Regions from separate parts of the Homo sapiens genome. Here region 2 is linked to region 1. Evidence: fine-mapped expression QTL. Tissue or cell type: whole blood. Region 1 holds a variant in brackets; the other region holds the start of a gene. All regions are shown on one strand. Distances are between the middles of the regions.

Region 1 (8,104 bases):
GAATATAAATCATTCTATGATAAAGACACATGCATGCATATGTTCACTGCAGCACTATACACAATAGCAATGACATGGAACTAACCTAAATATCCATCAATGATAGACTAGATAAAGAAAATGCAGTACATATACACCATGGAATACTATGCAGCCATAAAAAAGAATGAGATCATGTCATTTGCAGGGACATGGATGGAGCTAGAGGCCATTATTCTTAGCAAACTAACACAGGAAGAGAAAACCAAATACTACATTTTCCCTGTTAAGTGGGACCTAAATGATGAGACCACATGGACACACAAAGGGGAACAATACATACTGGGGCCTTTCGGATGGTGGAGGATGGACAGAGGGAGAGGATCAAGAAAAACAGCTAATGGGTACTAGGCTCAATACCTAGGTGATGAAATAATCTGTACAACAAACCTCCATGACACAAGTTTACCTTTGTGACAAACCTGCACATGTACCCCGAACTTAAAAGTCAAAAAAAAAAAAAAGAAAAAGGAAAATGTATCATAAAGCCTCAATAATTAAAATATTGTGGTAATGACCCACTAATAGACAGATCAATAGAAAAGAATAGAAAATCAAAAAATAGACTTAGGTTGAATACAGCTGTTTTTAAATGTTGGAAATATTATCATATGGAAGACAAATCAGCCCTGTTCATATTAACCAGAAAAGACTGAACTAGGACCAGTTCGCAGAAAAAGCTAAAGCTACGAGGAGACATATTACATTTAGTTCAATAGAAAGAATTAATGTTCTAATACTCAGTGCTCACCAAAAATGAATGGAGTCTTTCTGAAAGTAGTTCTCTGTCACTTCAGATATTCAAACTTAAGCATAATGATCAAGTATGGATGTTATATTAAGACTCATCATCAGATAAAAGAGAAGATCATCCTGGTGGATGGGAAGTAGGACTAGATTGTAGCTCCAACTCAGATGGACAGAGCAGTGTGTGGAGGCTCACGTGAGAAATTTTAGCTCCAGAATGACTGCAAGAACAAAGCAGGAATCCCGAGAGGACCCAAAGACCCTCCGAAGGCAGTGGACTGCTCCTGCAGGACCTGGGAGACACCCCAAATACTGTGAGTGCCCAAACTGCGAAAGTGGGAAAGGGAGACCCTCCACTCCCAAACACACCCCCACTGGGGAAACTGAAGGTCTGGTTTGCAGGAGAAGTTTCCAACCTTACCTGGAGCTGAGTCAATTTAGAGAGCCGAGCAAAATACAGGGGTAGAGGAAGCAGCAGGAAAGGCTCTGGGAGTTCGCAGGGTCCCCAAGCAGGCCATTCCTGCCTGGCACCACAGGGATCCTTCGGGAGGGCGGCCAGAGGCACAGGGGAAAACGCCCCAAGGAGAAGGAAGTCTCCAGCTGAACTTTGTAACAATTTGAATCGGGCGAGGTGCCTCCCGCTAGAACTCAGGGGAGGGCATGAATCCAGTGTACAGACTCCACAGGGGGAAGAACAACCAAAACTCTTTTCTTTTGCAGCTGGGAGGCAGGTAGCATGGGACAAGTTCTCAAGTCCTGCTTGCCCACTGCCTGGAAACAGCCTTAAGGCTGTTAGTAGGGGCATGGTGGGAGTAAGACCAGCCCTTCAGATTGTGTGGAGACCAGGTGAGGTCTGTGACCGCCTGCTTTCCCCCACTTCCCTGACAACCTGCATGACTCAGCAGAGGCAGCCATAATCCTCCTAGGTACATAACTCCACTGACCTGGGAAACTCACCCCCATTCCCCACAGCAGCCACAGCAAGACCTGCCCAAGAAGAATCTGAGCTCAGACACGCCTAGCCCTGCCCCGACCTGGTAGCTGAAGACAAAGGGTGGGTAGGGTATATGAAGAAATATACTCTTGGGAGTTCTGGGGCTCTGCCCACCACCAGTTCCTCTCCATACTATCACAGCTGATGCTCTTTGGAAAGTGCCACCTCCCGGCAGGAGACCAAGCAGCACAAAAACAGAACATTAAACCACCAAAGCTAAGAACCCTCACGAACTGTTTCACCCCCGCTGCCACCTCCACTAGAACAGGTGCTGGTATCCACGACTGAGGGAGCCATAGACGGTTCACATCACAGGACTCTGTGCAGATAACCCCCAGCACCAGCCCAGAACCAGGTAGGCTTGCTGGGTGGCTAGACCAAGAAGAGAGATAACAATTACTACAGTTCAGCTCATAGGAAGCCACATCCATAGGAAAAGGGGGAGAGTACTACATCAAGGGAGAACCCCATGGGACAAAAGAATCTGAACAAAAGACTTCAGCTCTATACCTTCCCTCTGACAGAGCCTACCCAAATGAGAAGGAACCAGAAAACCAACTCTGGTACTATGACAAAACAAGGCTCTTTAACACCCCCAGAAAATCACACTAGCTCACCAGCAATGGTTCCAAACCAAGAAGAAATCCCTGATTTACATGAAAAAGAATTCAGGATGTTAGTTATTAAGCTAATCAGGGAGGCACCAGAGAAAGGCGAAGCCCAATGCAAGGAAATCCAAAAAAATGATACAAGAAGGAAAGGGAGAAATATTCAAGGAAATAGATGGCATAAAGAAAAAGCAATCAAAACATCAGGGAAATTGGGCACACTTACAGAACTGCAAAATGCTCTGGAAAGTCTCAGCAATAGAATTGAACAAGTAGAAGAAAGAAATTCAGAGCTCGAAGACCAGGTCTTCGAATTAACCCAATCCAACAAAGACAAAGAAAAAAGAAAAAGAAAATATGAACAAAGCCTCCAAGAAGTCTGGGATTATGTTAAATGACCAAACCTAAGAATAATTGATGTTCCTCATAGTGTACTTATACAAATGGAGGGTATAGCCCACCACACACACCTTGGCTATATGATATAACCTTTTGCTCCCAGGCTATAAACCTGTACAGCATGTACTACACTGAATACTGTAGGCAACTGTAACACAATGGTTTGTATCTGTGTATCTTAACATAGAAAAGGTATAGTAAAAATACAGTCTTATAATCTTATGGGACTGCTATCTTATCTGCAGTCTGTTGTTAACTAAAACATCCTTATGCAGTGCATGACTGTATCTTGCAATTTCTTAACTTTTGCCAATATGATGAGTAAAAAAAATGAACCCTCATTTGTACTTTAACTTACATTATAATTTTTTTGTGGATTAAAAAAAAGAATAATTGATGTTCCTGAGGAAGAAAAGAAATCTAAAAGTTTGGAAAACATATTTGGGGGAATAATTGAGGAAAACTTCCCTGGCCTCGCTAGAGATCTAGACATCCAAATACAAGAAGCACAAAGAACACCTGGGAAATTCATCGCAAAAAGATCATCACCTAGGCACGTTGTCATCAGGTTATCTAAAGTTAAGACGAAGAAAAGAATCTTAACATCTGTGAGACAAAAGCATCAGGTACCCTATAAAGGAAAACCTAACAGATTAACAGCAGTTTTCTCAGCAGACACCCTACAAGCTGGAAGGGATTGGGGCCCTATCTTCAGCCTCCTCAAACAAAACAATTATCAGCCAAGAATTTTGTATCCAGCGAAACTAAGCATCATATATGAAGGAAAGATATAGTCTTTTCCAGACAAACAAATGCTGAGAGAATTCGCCACTACCAAGCCACCACTACCAAGAACTGCTAAAAAGAGCTCTAATCCTGGAAACACATCAAAACAGAAGCTCTTTAAAGCATAAATCACACAGGACTTATAAAACAAAAAAAATGAAAATTTAAAAAGCAAAAATAAAAAACAAAAAACCAAGGTACAAAGTCAACAAATAGCACGATGAATGGAATGGTATCTCACATCTCAATAGTAACATTGAATGTAAATGGCTTAAATGCTCTACCTAAAAGATACAAAACTGCAGAATGGATAAGAACTCACCAACCATCTGCTCCCTTCAGGATACTCACCTAACACATAAGGACTACATAAACTGAAATAAAAAGGTTGGAAAAAGCATTTCATGCAAATGGACACCAAAAGCGAGCAGGGGTAGCTATTCTTATATCAGACAAAACAAACTTTAAAGCAACAGCAGTTGAAGAGACAAAGAGGGACATTATATAATGGTAAAGGCCTTGTCCAACAAGAAAATATCACAATCCTAAACATATATGCACCTAACACTGGTGCTCCCAAATTTGTAAAACAATTACTAACAGACCTAAGAAATGAGATAGACAGCAATACATAACAGTGGGGGACTTCAATACTCCACTGACAGCACTAGACAGGACATCAACACAAAAAGTCAACAAAGAAACAATGGATTTAAACTATACCTTGGAACAAATGGACTTAGCAGATATATACAAAACATTTTCTCCAACAACCACAGAATACACATTCTATTCAACAGTGCACAGAACCTTCTCCAAGATAGACCATGTGATAG[G/A]CCACTAGATGAGCCTCAATAAATTTAAGAAAATTGAAATTATATCAAGCACTCTCTCAGAGTGGAATAAAATTGGAAATCAACTCCAAAAGGAACCTTCAAGACCATGCAAATACATGGACGTTAAATAACCTGCTCCTGAATGATCATTTGGTCAAAAACAAAACTCAGACGGAAATTAAAAATTCTTTGAACTGAACAACAATAATGACACTACCTATCAAAACCTCTGGGATACAGCAAAGGCTGTGCTAAGAGAAGAGTTCATAGCATTAAATGCCTATATCAAAAAGACGGAAAGAATACAAACCGACATTCTAAGGTCACACCTCAAGGAACTAGAGAAACAAGAACAAACCAAACCCAAACCCAGCAGAAGAAAGGAAATAACCAAGATCAGAGCAGAATTAAATGAAATTGAAATAAACAAACAAAAAAAATACAAAAGATAAATGAAACAAAAAGCTAGTTCTTGGAAAAGATAAATAAATTTGATAGACTATTAGCAAGATTAACCAAGAAAAGAACAGAAAAAATCCAAATAACCTAATTAAGACACAAAACTGGACATATTACAACTGACACCGCTGAAATACAAAAGATCATTCAAGGCTACTAAGAACATCTTTATGCACATAAACTAGAAAACCTAGAAGAGATGGATAAATTCCTGGAAAAATACAACACTCCTAGCTTAACTCAGAAAGAATTAGATACCCTGAACAGACCAATAGCAAGCACCAAGATTTAAATGGTAATTAAAAAATTACCAACAAAAAAAAAGTCCAGGACCAGAAGGATTCACAGCAGAATTCTACCAGACATTCAAAGAATTGATACCAATCCTTTTGACACTATTCCACAAGATAGAGAAAAAAGGGAACCTTCCCTAATTCATTCTATGAAGGCAGAATCACCCTAATACCAAAACCAGGAAAGGACATATCTAAAAAAGAAAACCACAGACTGACATCCCTGATAAACACAGACACTAAAATCTTTAACAAAATACTCGCTAACTGAATCCAACAACATATCAAAAAGATAATCCACCATGATCACGTGGGTTACATAGCAGGGATGCAGGGATGGTTTAACATACACAAGTCAATAAATGTGATACACCACATAAACAGAATTAAAAACAAAAGTCACATGATCATCTCAATAGATGCAGAAAAAGCATTCAACAAAATCCAGCATCCCTTTATGATTAAAACTCTCAGCAAAATCAGCATACAATGGACATAACTCAATGTATTAAAAGCCATCTATGGCAAATCCACAGCAAACATAATATTGGATGGGGAAAGCTGAAAGCATTCTCTCTGAGAACTGGAATGAGACAAGGATACCTACCCACTCTCACCACTCCTCTTCAACATAGAACTGGAAGTCCCAGCCAGAGCAATCAGACAAGAGAAGGAAATAAAGGACACCCAAATTGGTAAAGAGGAAGTCAAACTGTCATTGTTTCCTGACAATATGATCATTTACCTTGAAAACCCTAAAGACTCTCCAGAAAGCTCCTAGAAATGATAAAAGAATTCAGCAAAGTTTCCGGATACAAGACTAATGTACACAAATCAGTAGCTCTTCTCTACACCAACAGCTACCAAGCGGAGAGTCAAATCAAGAACTCAACCCCTTTACAACAGCTGCAAAAATAATAAAATACTTAGAGATATACCTAACCAAGGAGGCAAAAGACCTCTATAAGGAAAACTACAAACACTGCTGAAAGAAATCATAGACAACATAAACAAATGGAAACACACCCCAAGCTCACGGATGAGTAGAATCAATACTGTGAAAATAGCCATACTGCTAAAAGCAATCTACAAATTCAATGCAATCCCCATCAGAACACCACTATCATTCTTCACATAATTAGAAAAAAAAATTCTAAAATTCATATGAAACCAAAATAGAGCCCGCATAGCCAAAGCAAGACTAAGCATGAAGAACAAATCTGAAGGCATCGCACTACCTGATTTCAAACTATACTATAAGGCCATAGTAACCAAAACAGCATGGTACTGGTATAAAAACAGGCATATAGACCAATGGAACAGAATAGAGAACCCAGAAATAAATCCAAATACTTATAGCCAACTGATCTTCAACAAAGCAAACAGAAACATAAAGTGGGGAAAGGACACCCTTTTAAACAAATGGTGCTGGGATAATTGGCTAGCCACATGTAGGAGAACGAAACTGGATCCTCATCTCTCACCTTATACAAAAATCAACTCAAGATGGATTAAGGACTTAAATCTAAGACCTGAAACTATAAAAATTCTAGACATAACATTGGAAAAACCCTTCTAGACATTGGCTTAGGCAAAGATTTCATGACCAAGAACCCAAAAGCAAATGCAATAAAACAAAGATAAATAGCTGGGGCTTAATTAAACTAAAGAGCTTTTGCACAGCAAAAGGAACAGTCAGCAGAGTAAACAGACAACGCACAGAGTGGGAGAAAATCTTCACAATCTTTACATCTGACAAAGGACTAATATCCAGAATCTAAAACAAACTCCAACAAATCAGCAAGAAATGAAACAAACAATCACATCAAAAAGTGGGCTAAGGACATGAATAGACAATTATCAAAAGAAGAGACACAAATGGCCAACAAATATATGAAAAAAAGCTCAGCCTCACTAATGATCAGGGAAATGCAAATCAAAACGACAATGCAATACCACCCTACTCCTGCAAGAATGGCCATAATCAAAAAATCAAGAAACGGTAGATGTTGCCATGAATGCGGTCATCAAGGAACACTTCTACACTGCTGGAGGGAATGTAAACTAGTAGAGCCACTATGGAAAACAGTGTGGAGATTCCTTAAAGAACTAAAAGTAGAATTACCATTTGATCCAGCAATCTCATTACTGGGTATCTACCCAGAGGAAAAGAAGTCATTATAGGAAAAAGATGCTTGCACACGCATGTTTATAGCAGCACAATTCACAATTGCAAAATCATGGAACCAACCCAAATGCCCATCAATCAACAAGTGGATAAAAATCTGTGGTGTATATACATATACACACACACACACACACACACACACACACCCCATATACCATATACTATGTATATATTATACCATATATATGTGGTAGTGTGTGTATATATATATAAAATCATATTATGTATATGATTGGAATATATATATATATACACACACTACCATATTATATATGTATATATATGATGGAATGCTACTCAGCCATGAAGAGGAATGAATTAACAGCATTTTCAGTGACCTGGATGAGACTGGAGAAACTTTTTTTTTTTGTGGGGGACAGAGTCTCACTCTGTCGCCCAGGCTGGAATGCAGTGGCGTGATCTCGGCTCACTGCAGCCTCCACCTCCTGGGTTCAAGCGATTCTCCTGCCTCAGCCTCCTGAGTAGCTGGGACTACAGGAGACTCTTATTGTAAGTGAAGTAGCTCAAGAATGGAAAACGAAACACCATATGTTCTCACTGATGTGTGGGAGCTAAGCTATGAGGATGCAAAGGCATAAGAATGATACAATGGACTTTGGGGATTTGGGGGGAAGGGTGGGAGGGGGGCAAGGGATAAAAGACTACAAATAGGGTGCAGTGTATACTACTCGAGTGATGGGTGCACCAAAATCTCAGAAATCACCACTAAAGAACTTACTCATGTAACCAAACAC
Region 2 (8,104 bases), 220 kb after region 1:
TGGTGGAATACATCTGTAATCCCAGCACTTTGGGAGGCCGAGGTGGGCAGATCACCAGGTCAGGAGATCGAGACCATCCTGGCTAGCCTAGCACGGTGAAACCTCGTCTCTACTAAAAATACAAAAAATTAGCCAGGTGTGGTGGCAGGCACCTGTAGTCCCAGCTACTCAGGAGGCTGAGGCAGAAGAATCGCTTGAACCCGGAGGTGGAGGTTGCAGTGAACCTCAATCACACCATTGCACTCAAGTTAGATCAAGTCACTTCACAACTTAAACCCCTTCAAACATCCTAAGTCCTTACCATGATCTAGTAACTTCTGCATTGCCTGCCACTCACCACCACCCCCTTAAACACCATCAATCTTTTTTTTTTTTTGAGACAGAGTTTCACTCTTGTTGGTCAGACTGGAGTGCAATGGCACGATCTCAGCTCACCGCAACCTCCGCCTCCTGGATTCAAGCGATTCTCCTGCCTCAGCCTCTGGAGCAGCTGGGGTTACAGGCCACCACACCCAGCTAATTTTGTATTTTTAGTAGAGATGGGGTGTCGAACTCCCAACCTCAGGTGATCCGCCTGCCTCGGCCTCCCAAAGTGCTGGGATTACAGGTGTGAGCCACCGCGCCCGGCATTTTTTTTTTTTTTTTGAGACGGAGTCATGCCATGTCGCCCAGGTTGAAGTGCAGTGGCATGATCTTGGCTGTCTCATTTTCTCTACTCATTACTTTGGCCTTCCACTGTTTCTTAAACAAGCGCACCGGCTCACGCCTGTAATCCCAGCACTTTGGGAGGCTGAGGCGGGTGGATCACAAGGTCAGGAATTCTAGACTGGCCTGGCCAAGATGATGAAACCCCGTCTCTACTAAAAATACAAAAAATTAGCCAGGGGTGATGGCAGGTGCCTGTAATCCCAGCTACTCGGGAGGCCGAAGCAGAGAATTGCTTGAACCCAGGAGGCGGAGGTTGCAGTGAGCCGAGATCGCGCCACTGCACTCCAGCCTGGGTGACAGAGCTGGACTCCGTCTCAAAAAAGAAAAGAAAAGGACAGGACATGGGATATTTCACAATTGGGGGACATTAATAGCTATGATTTGATTACATGCACAGTTTTAGGAGGAAGGACAAATAAATATATTGGAGTACACCGCCAGTAAGTTGAGGAAGTGAAAACAGTGATCATAAGACTAGTCTCTCAAGAGGTCTAGCAGTGAAGGAATCTCTAGCGTTTAGGAAGCAGGTAACAAAGTGCTGAGTGCAGTAGGTGTAGCACATATCTCATTTAACATGTCCATTTTTAAAGATGCAGGAGATTCAGAAATGCTAACAAACTTGTTCAAAGTCACAGGTAACATAAAGCTATTCCCCCCCAGGTAACAAAGCTAAGTAGACAGCTATTTATACAACACACTGATTGAAAAAGAATTTCTTAAGAATCTAATCTGTGCACGCAATTACATAATGTTCAGTGTGATAAGCATCTAACTTATCTTAAGAAAGCAAAACAAAAAGAAATGATTTGAGAAACAAATGAACTTGGAAAGACATGTCAACTTTAGCCTGCCTCCGTGTTCCCATTAATACAGCTTTCAAAAGAGCCCATAAATCTGTATCACAAATACTGAGTGCCTACTCCAGGTAAAGAACTTTGCCACATCACCCTTAGATTCAGTGGTGGAAAGGGGACACAACTGTGGATAGAATTTACAATCCAGAGCAAAAAAAATTTCCCTCTGGCACCCAAAGGTTGGCCCTAACACAACGCTACAACTTTTACATATCACAGAACTAGGTCTTTAAGTAATTAGCAAAACTAAAGAACAAGAACAAATTCTCATTTACATCTGTATGGTTAGTATAATCTCTTATTAACCAATGTGGCAAAAAAAATGCAAAACAAAGCCATCCTCTTAGAAAAATAGAACTTGGCTGGTCTTTGTTAAAAACTTTTTCCCATAGGAAAAAGGGACTCTTCCCTGGTTAATACAGTAGTTCTCCCATATCCATGGGGGATACGGTCCAAGACTCCCAGTGGATGCCTAGAACTGTGAATAACAGTGAACCCAATACACGTTGTTTTTTCCTATACATACCTATTATAAAGTTTCATTTACAGGCTGGGCACAGTGGCTCACGCCTGTAATCCCACCTCTTTGGGAGGCCGAGGCAGACCGATCATCTGAGATCAGGAGTTTGAGACCAGTCTGGCCAACACAGTGAAACCCTCCCTGTCTCTACTAAAAATACAAAAATTAGCCGGGTGAGCTGGGCGCGGTGGCTCACGCCTGTAATCCCAGCACTTTGGGAGGCTGAGGCGGGTGGATCACCTGAGGTTGGAAGTTCGAGACCAGCCTGACCAGTAAGATCTGATCAGTCTTTACTAAAAAAAAAAAAAAAAAAAAAAAAAAAAAAAAAAATTAGCCGGGCGTGGTAGCACATGCCCGTAATCCCAGCTACTTGGGAGGCTGAGGCGGAGAATCGCTTGAACCCGGGAGGCGGAGGTTGCGGGGAGCCGAGATCGTGCCATTCCAGCCTGGGCAACAAGCGCCAAACTCCATCTCAAAAAAAAAAAAAAAAATTAGCCGGGCGTACTGGGACACGCCTGTAATCCCAGCTACTTGGGAGGCTGGGGCATGAATATCCCTTGAACCTGGGAGGCAAAGTTTCAAAAAGTTAGGCACAGTAAGAGATTAACAATATACTGTATTAAAATTCACTTGAACATGGTATCTCTCGAAATGTCTTATTGTACTCTGTTTCGCACCTCAGGTAGCTGAAACTACAGAAAGCAGTTAAGTGGGGATCACTGTATTTCTCATTCAAAAGTTCCTTCCTCTGTCCACCAACTTATTCATTCTTTCTCTGGGCCAAGTGCTGGACCAGACCCTGAAAATTACAACAGGCTAAACCAGCCTTCATGAAATGCACTAGCAGAGGAAACAAAGCAACTAATTCATTACAATTAATGATCAACTTCTGCTAAGGAGAATAAAGAGTTCATGGAGGGCTTAATGGGGATGGGGTGATTTCCAGAGGAAGTGATATGTGGGCTGATATCTGAGGCAGGTATAAGAGTTGGAGGGAGGGAGAGAATACAGCATTAGAGGTGGAGGAAACTCCTAAAAGCCAAGAGAGGAAAGAAAATGAAGCTTTCCAGTAACAAAAATAAAGCCAGTGTGGCATGAACCTGGAAAGCCAGAAGGAAAGTGGGCCAAATGAACCAGAGATAGAGTGTGCTCACTCAGTAGGTCTTTATCCTAAAAGACTGCGAAACCTCAGATGCATTCTAAGCATGTGATTCACTAAAACACGTGCATTTCTAAACGATAATTCAGTGCCACAGAGCTCCTTCCAAAACCCATTCTCACACCCAGACAACGCACAGACTTCCTTAACAAGTCATTCACTGACACCGCCCAACTTTTAAAAAGAAAAAAAAAAAGCTTCAAATTGAATTCTACTTCAAGGAAGAGGAAATCAAGCAGGCTGAAAAAAAGAAAAAAGTGGTTTAAACAGGTGGCAGCCACTTAAATATTAAAAAGTGACCAACAGGCCAGGCGCGGTGGCTCACGCCTGTAATCCCAGCACTTTGGGAGGCCGAAGCGGGCGGATCACTTGAGGTCAGGAGTTTGAGACCAACCTGGTCCAACATGGTGAAACCCCGTCTCTACTAAAACTACAAAAATTACCTGGGCGTGGTGGCGCACGCCTGTAATCCCAGCTACTCAGGAGGCTGAGGCACAAGAATCGCTTGAACCCGGGAGGCAGAGGTTGCAGTGAGCCGAGATTGCGCCACTGCACTCCAGCCTTGCGACACAGCGAGACTCCGTCTCAAACAAACAAAAGTGACCAACGAACTTAACCTAAATATATATACGGAGAATAAAGTTTATATAGTTGTTTCTCACTTAGAAATAACCTTTCAATATACATATTATTTAAATTACATGACCATTAACACTTAGGGAAAACAGAAACTTACCTACATCCTAATATTTTACAATAAAACATGAGCTTGATTAAAGGTTCTGGTGCCCCTACAGATTTTCATGTCTTGCTAATACCATCCTTCCCTTCACACATTTTCTCTAAATCATTAAAAAGCTGACTTCCTGAGTGCATTTTTGGTTTCGCTTTTTAAAGAATAAAACGTCTTCTAATTCCTAACTTTCTTTACTACTGACTTGAGAGATGCCACGAGATTTGCGGAACACCAAACCAGCGTGCAGGGTTTAAAAGGCTGCCCGTGACCCGGGCGCCTGACGGTAACTTTCCCGCCCTCCCCTCCCCAACTCCCCTGCAGTCGCCGAGCCTCGCCTTCTCCGCAGCACAGCCCAGGACAAGGCCGGGCCGGAGCTGCTGCCGCCACCGCTTCTCCCTTCCCCGCGGGCTGAGGCCGGTGGACCCAAGCGGGAAGCGAGGAGAGGCGCGGGAGCACCACCGTTACCTGAGGCCCGCGCCCGGCAGCGGGCACTTCGGCCAAGAGGGCAGAGCCGGGAAGCGGTCACAGAGCAGCCAGCAGGAAGGTCGACTCCGGGAAGCTCTCCTGGCGCCCAGGGCCCGCAACGTCGCCTGCTAAGCTAAAGCGCCGGACAGCCCGGCCCCTACGCCCCCTGCCTCCGAGCACCGCTGCGTCACGCGCAGGGCCACCTCCGGCTGAGCATCCTATTGGTGGTCCCCAGGTTGCCAGGCTCCGCCCACCTCCCCGCCCCTTCCCGGGCGCGCGGGTCCCCGGCGCCAGTGCTCGCAGGCTGGCCCTGGCAACCTGCCAAGGAAGCTTCTCACCCGGACATCATGATACCGGCGACAACATCTTGCTTGACACTTCCACCCCAGCAGTAGAATGTGCAGCCAAAACGGGACTGCGACAACTCCCTGCAAGCCCGAAACGGCACCCTGCGTGGTAGCATGGAGCTGCAGGGGCGTTTGGCTCCTAGGCCGACTGGAAGAAGCCGCTTCTGGAGCTGTGGATCATTGCAGTTTGAACTGACCATCCAGGAACAACGTAGAACTAGCCAGAAGCAAGAATCGCTGGCTTATCTGCACACCAAGATTCGTGCCTTTATCAGGAGATTCCTTACCGTTTGAAAACCAGCGTCCTTCAGCAACATTCAAACTAGATAAGGGGAAAAAACCTGCACCAAATAATAAAACACACCAAATAATGGAACAACTAAGTAATATTTAAGGGCCCTTGAGGCCAGGTGCGGTGGCTCACGCCTGTAATCCCAACACTTTGGGAGACCGAGGTGGCTGGGTCACCTGAGGTTAGGATCGAGACCAGCCTGACCAACATGGTGAAACCCCGTCTCTACTAAATACAAAAAATTAGCCGGGCTTGGTGGCGCGCGCCTGTAATCCCAGCTATTCGGGAGGCTGAGGCAGGAGGATTGCTTGAACCCGGAAGCCAGAGGTTGCAGTGAGCCTAGATTGTGCCATTGCACTCCAGCCTGGGCAATAAGAGCTAAACTCCTTCTCAAAAAAAGTTTTAAAAATAAAATAAACAAAGGGCCCTCGTGACTTCATAATCAAAAGAAGAATGATGCAGAGAGATTTGGGACAGAGATTAAATACAACAGTTAATCGCTTGGAATTTGTGAAGGCAGAGGTGTACGTAAATTTAGGGTAAAGGTAGGTGAAAAGGCAATGATGAGAGGAGCAGAGACTGAAGAGTCGCACTCACAGCCTGCAAACTAATACCAGCTAGCCTGGCCTGACTAATCGCTTCTTCCCCACTCCTCCCCAGGACAAAAATCCCTGAACAAACAGATGAGGTTTAGCAGAACTGACTACTCTCTGGGTCCTTTAAACAAAGTGGATTTGTACACGTTCCCTTGGCCACCCAGCAGGCTGCACTGTTCACTCAAAGCAGAAATGGCCCTCAGCATCCAGTCGAGTTTAGTACTGGCTGTCATTGGCAGATCTGCTCCGTTTGGCCTCTTCTACAACTGTGATTGCCACGTGTGCTGACTAGTTGGTGACAGGGTCTGGTAGACCCCCAGCTGCTTCCCCTCCCCACTCCCACTAGTTATAGAGCAGTAGGAACATAGGCACTCATTTCTATTGGGTCTCTGTTGGCTACCTTCTATATACACCAAGATGACTGGCCTTTTCACTGTTTGATTCATTCATTCAAAAAATATTGATAGTATTCTTGGTGCTAGAAATACAGTGGTGAATAAACAGAAGAAGCCCCTGCACTTAGAGGCTTATGTTCTGCAGGACTAGGTATGAAAGGAAACAAACAGGTGGCTCAAGCCTATAATCCCAGCACTTTGGGAGGCTGAGGCAGGAGGATCACTTTGAGGCCAGGAGTCCAAGACCAGCCTGAGCAACATAGTGAGACTCCCTCTCTACAGAATTTAAAAACAACAACAACAACAACAACAATGACAACAAAATTTGCTGGGAATTGTGGCAGGCCCCTATGGTCCCAGCTACTCGGGAGGCTGAGATAAGAGGATTGCTTGTGGTGGGGGATGGGGGGTGAGGGACGGAGGATGCAGTGAGCCAAAAAATCATGCCACTGCACTGCAGCCTGGTCAACACAGTGGGACTCTGTCTCAAACAACAAAAGCTTATGTTTCTAATGAAGAATATAAATAATAAAACGAATAGATGAGATAATCACTGGCAGTGATAAGTACTGAGCAGAAAACAAAACAGAATGGTCAGGGAAGGATTTTCTGAGGAGATAATTCAGGAGCTAAGACCTAAATGACAAGAAGGAGCCAGCCAAGCCAACCATGGGGAGGAAGAACATTCTAGACAGAGGATAATGGGTGTCAAGGCCCCGATGCTGAACTGTGGCTGATGCTGAAGCGTGGCTGTTTGAGGAACAGGCCAGGAGGCTTGAGCATGTCAAATAGGGGTTTGAAGTTGAGTTTGGAGCATTAAGCAGGAACCTAATCACGTTGTTTGGATTTATCTGTTAAGTGCAAAGGCAAGATAATGAAGGGTTTGGGTTTTTGTTGTTTTGAGATGGGGTCTCACTCTGTCGCCCAGGCTGGAGTGCAGTGGTGCAATCAGGGCTCACTGCATCCTCTACCTCCCCAGGCTCGCTAAGTCATCTTCCCACCTCAGCCTCCCTAGTACCTGGGACTACAGGTGGGCGTCACCACACCAGACTAATTTTTGTATTTTTTGTAGAGACAGGGTTTCGCTGTGTTGCCCAGGCTGGTCCTGAACTCCTGGGCTCAAGTGATCCTCCCGCCTCAGCCTCCCAAACTGCTGGGATTACAGGCATGAGCCACGTGCCCGGCCATTGGTTTATTTTTTTTTTTAAATCAACCTATTTTATAGAGAATGACTTGAAGGGAGCAGCAATGGAACAAAAAGGAGCCGAAGAACAATACAAAGTTATTGGGCAAGTTCAGGGGGTAGATGGTGGTACCTGGACTAGGCTGGTTGGTGTGGAAATAGAAATTGAAAGATTTCAGGATATTTTCCCGAGGTGCAGGTGTGAAGAAAGGTAGTAAACGAGATGACTCCCAGGTTGTTTCCTTAAGCAATTGAGAGGATGGGGATACCATTTAGTGCAAGGGCAAAGATGATATATGATTGGAGGGACTCCAAAGCCTGTGCTCAGACTCCAAGCCTCTCCCACCACTGCACTGAAAATCTCACATTACTCAATCCTTGGAAATCAAGGTTTGGTTAAATGCAAGTGTTGACTTCATCATATTGAAAAAAAAACAGGTGTACAGAACTTGTATAGTTGCTAGTGCTAAGAATATGAATAAGACTGTCTATTGGAGACACTAATAGGTATAAGCCATTTCAAAACAATGAGATAAGTGTTACAATAAAAGGATGTTAAAGGCCAGGCGTGGTCGCTCACACCTGTAATCTCAGCACTTTGGGAGGCCAAGGTGGGCGGATCACCTGAGGTCAGGAGTTCGAGACCAGCTTGGCCAACATGGTGAAAACCTGTCTCTACTAAAAATACAAAAAATTAGCCGGGTGTGGTGGCAGGCGCCTATAATCCTAGCTACTTGGGAGGCTGAGGCAGGAGAATCTCTTGAACCTGGGAGGCAGAGGTTGCAGTGAGCCGAGATCGCGCCACTGCACTCCATCCTGGGCAACAGAGCAAGACTCCCTCTCAAAAAG

Evidence for each region. PIP is the estimated chance that this variant, and not a neighbour inherited with it, causes the effect.
Region 2: SOAT1 starts here. The variant in region 1 is fine-mapped to the expression of SOAT1 in whole blood (INTERVAL, PIP above 0.99).

The regions. Positions count from the first base shown.
Region 1 is chr1:179,510,785-179,518,888 of GRCh38, reverse strand. All of the region lies in intron 21 of AXDND1 (axonemal dynein light chain domain containing 1), which reads right to left. Among named protein-coding and RNA genes, the nearest start is that of NPHS2, 61 kb to the left of the region's middle. RefSeq lists an enhancer at 798-1,997. The variant G/A (reference allele first, on the strand shown) is at 4,410.
Region 2 is chr1:179,290,275-179,298,378 of GRCh38, reverse strand. It overlaps SOAT1 (sterol O-acyltransferase 1), which reads right to left and starts at 4,582. Exons shown (of 16, transcript NM_003101.6): 1 at 4,443-4,582. RefSeq lists an enhancer at 3,878-4,385 and a silencer at 4,598-4,787.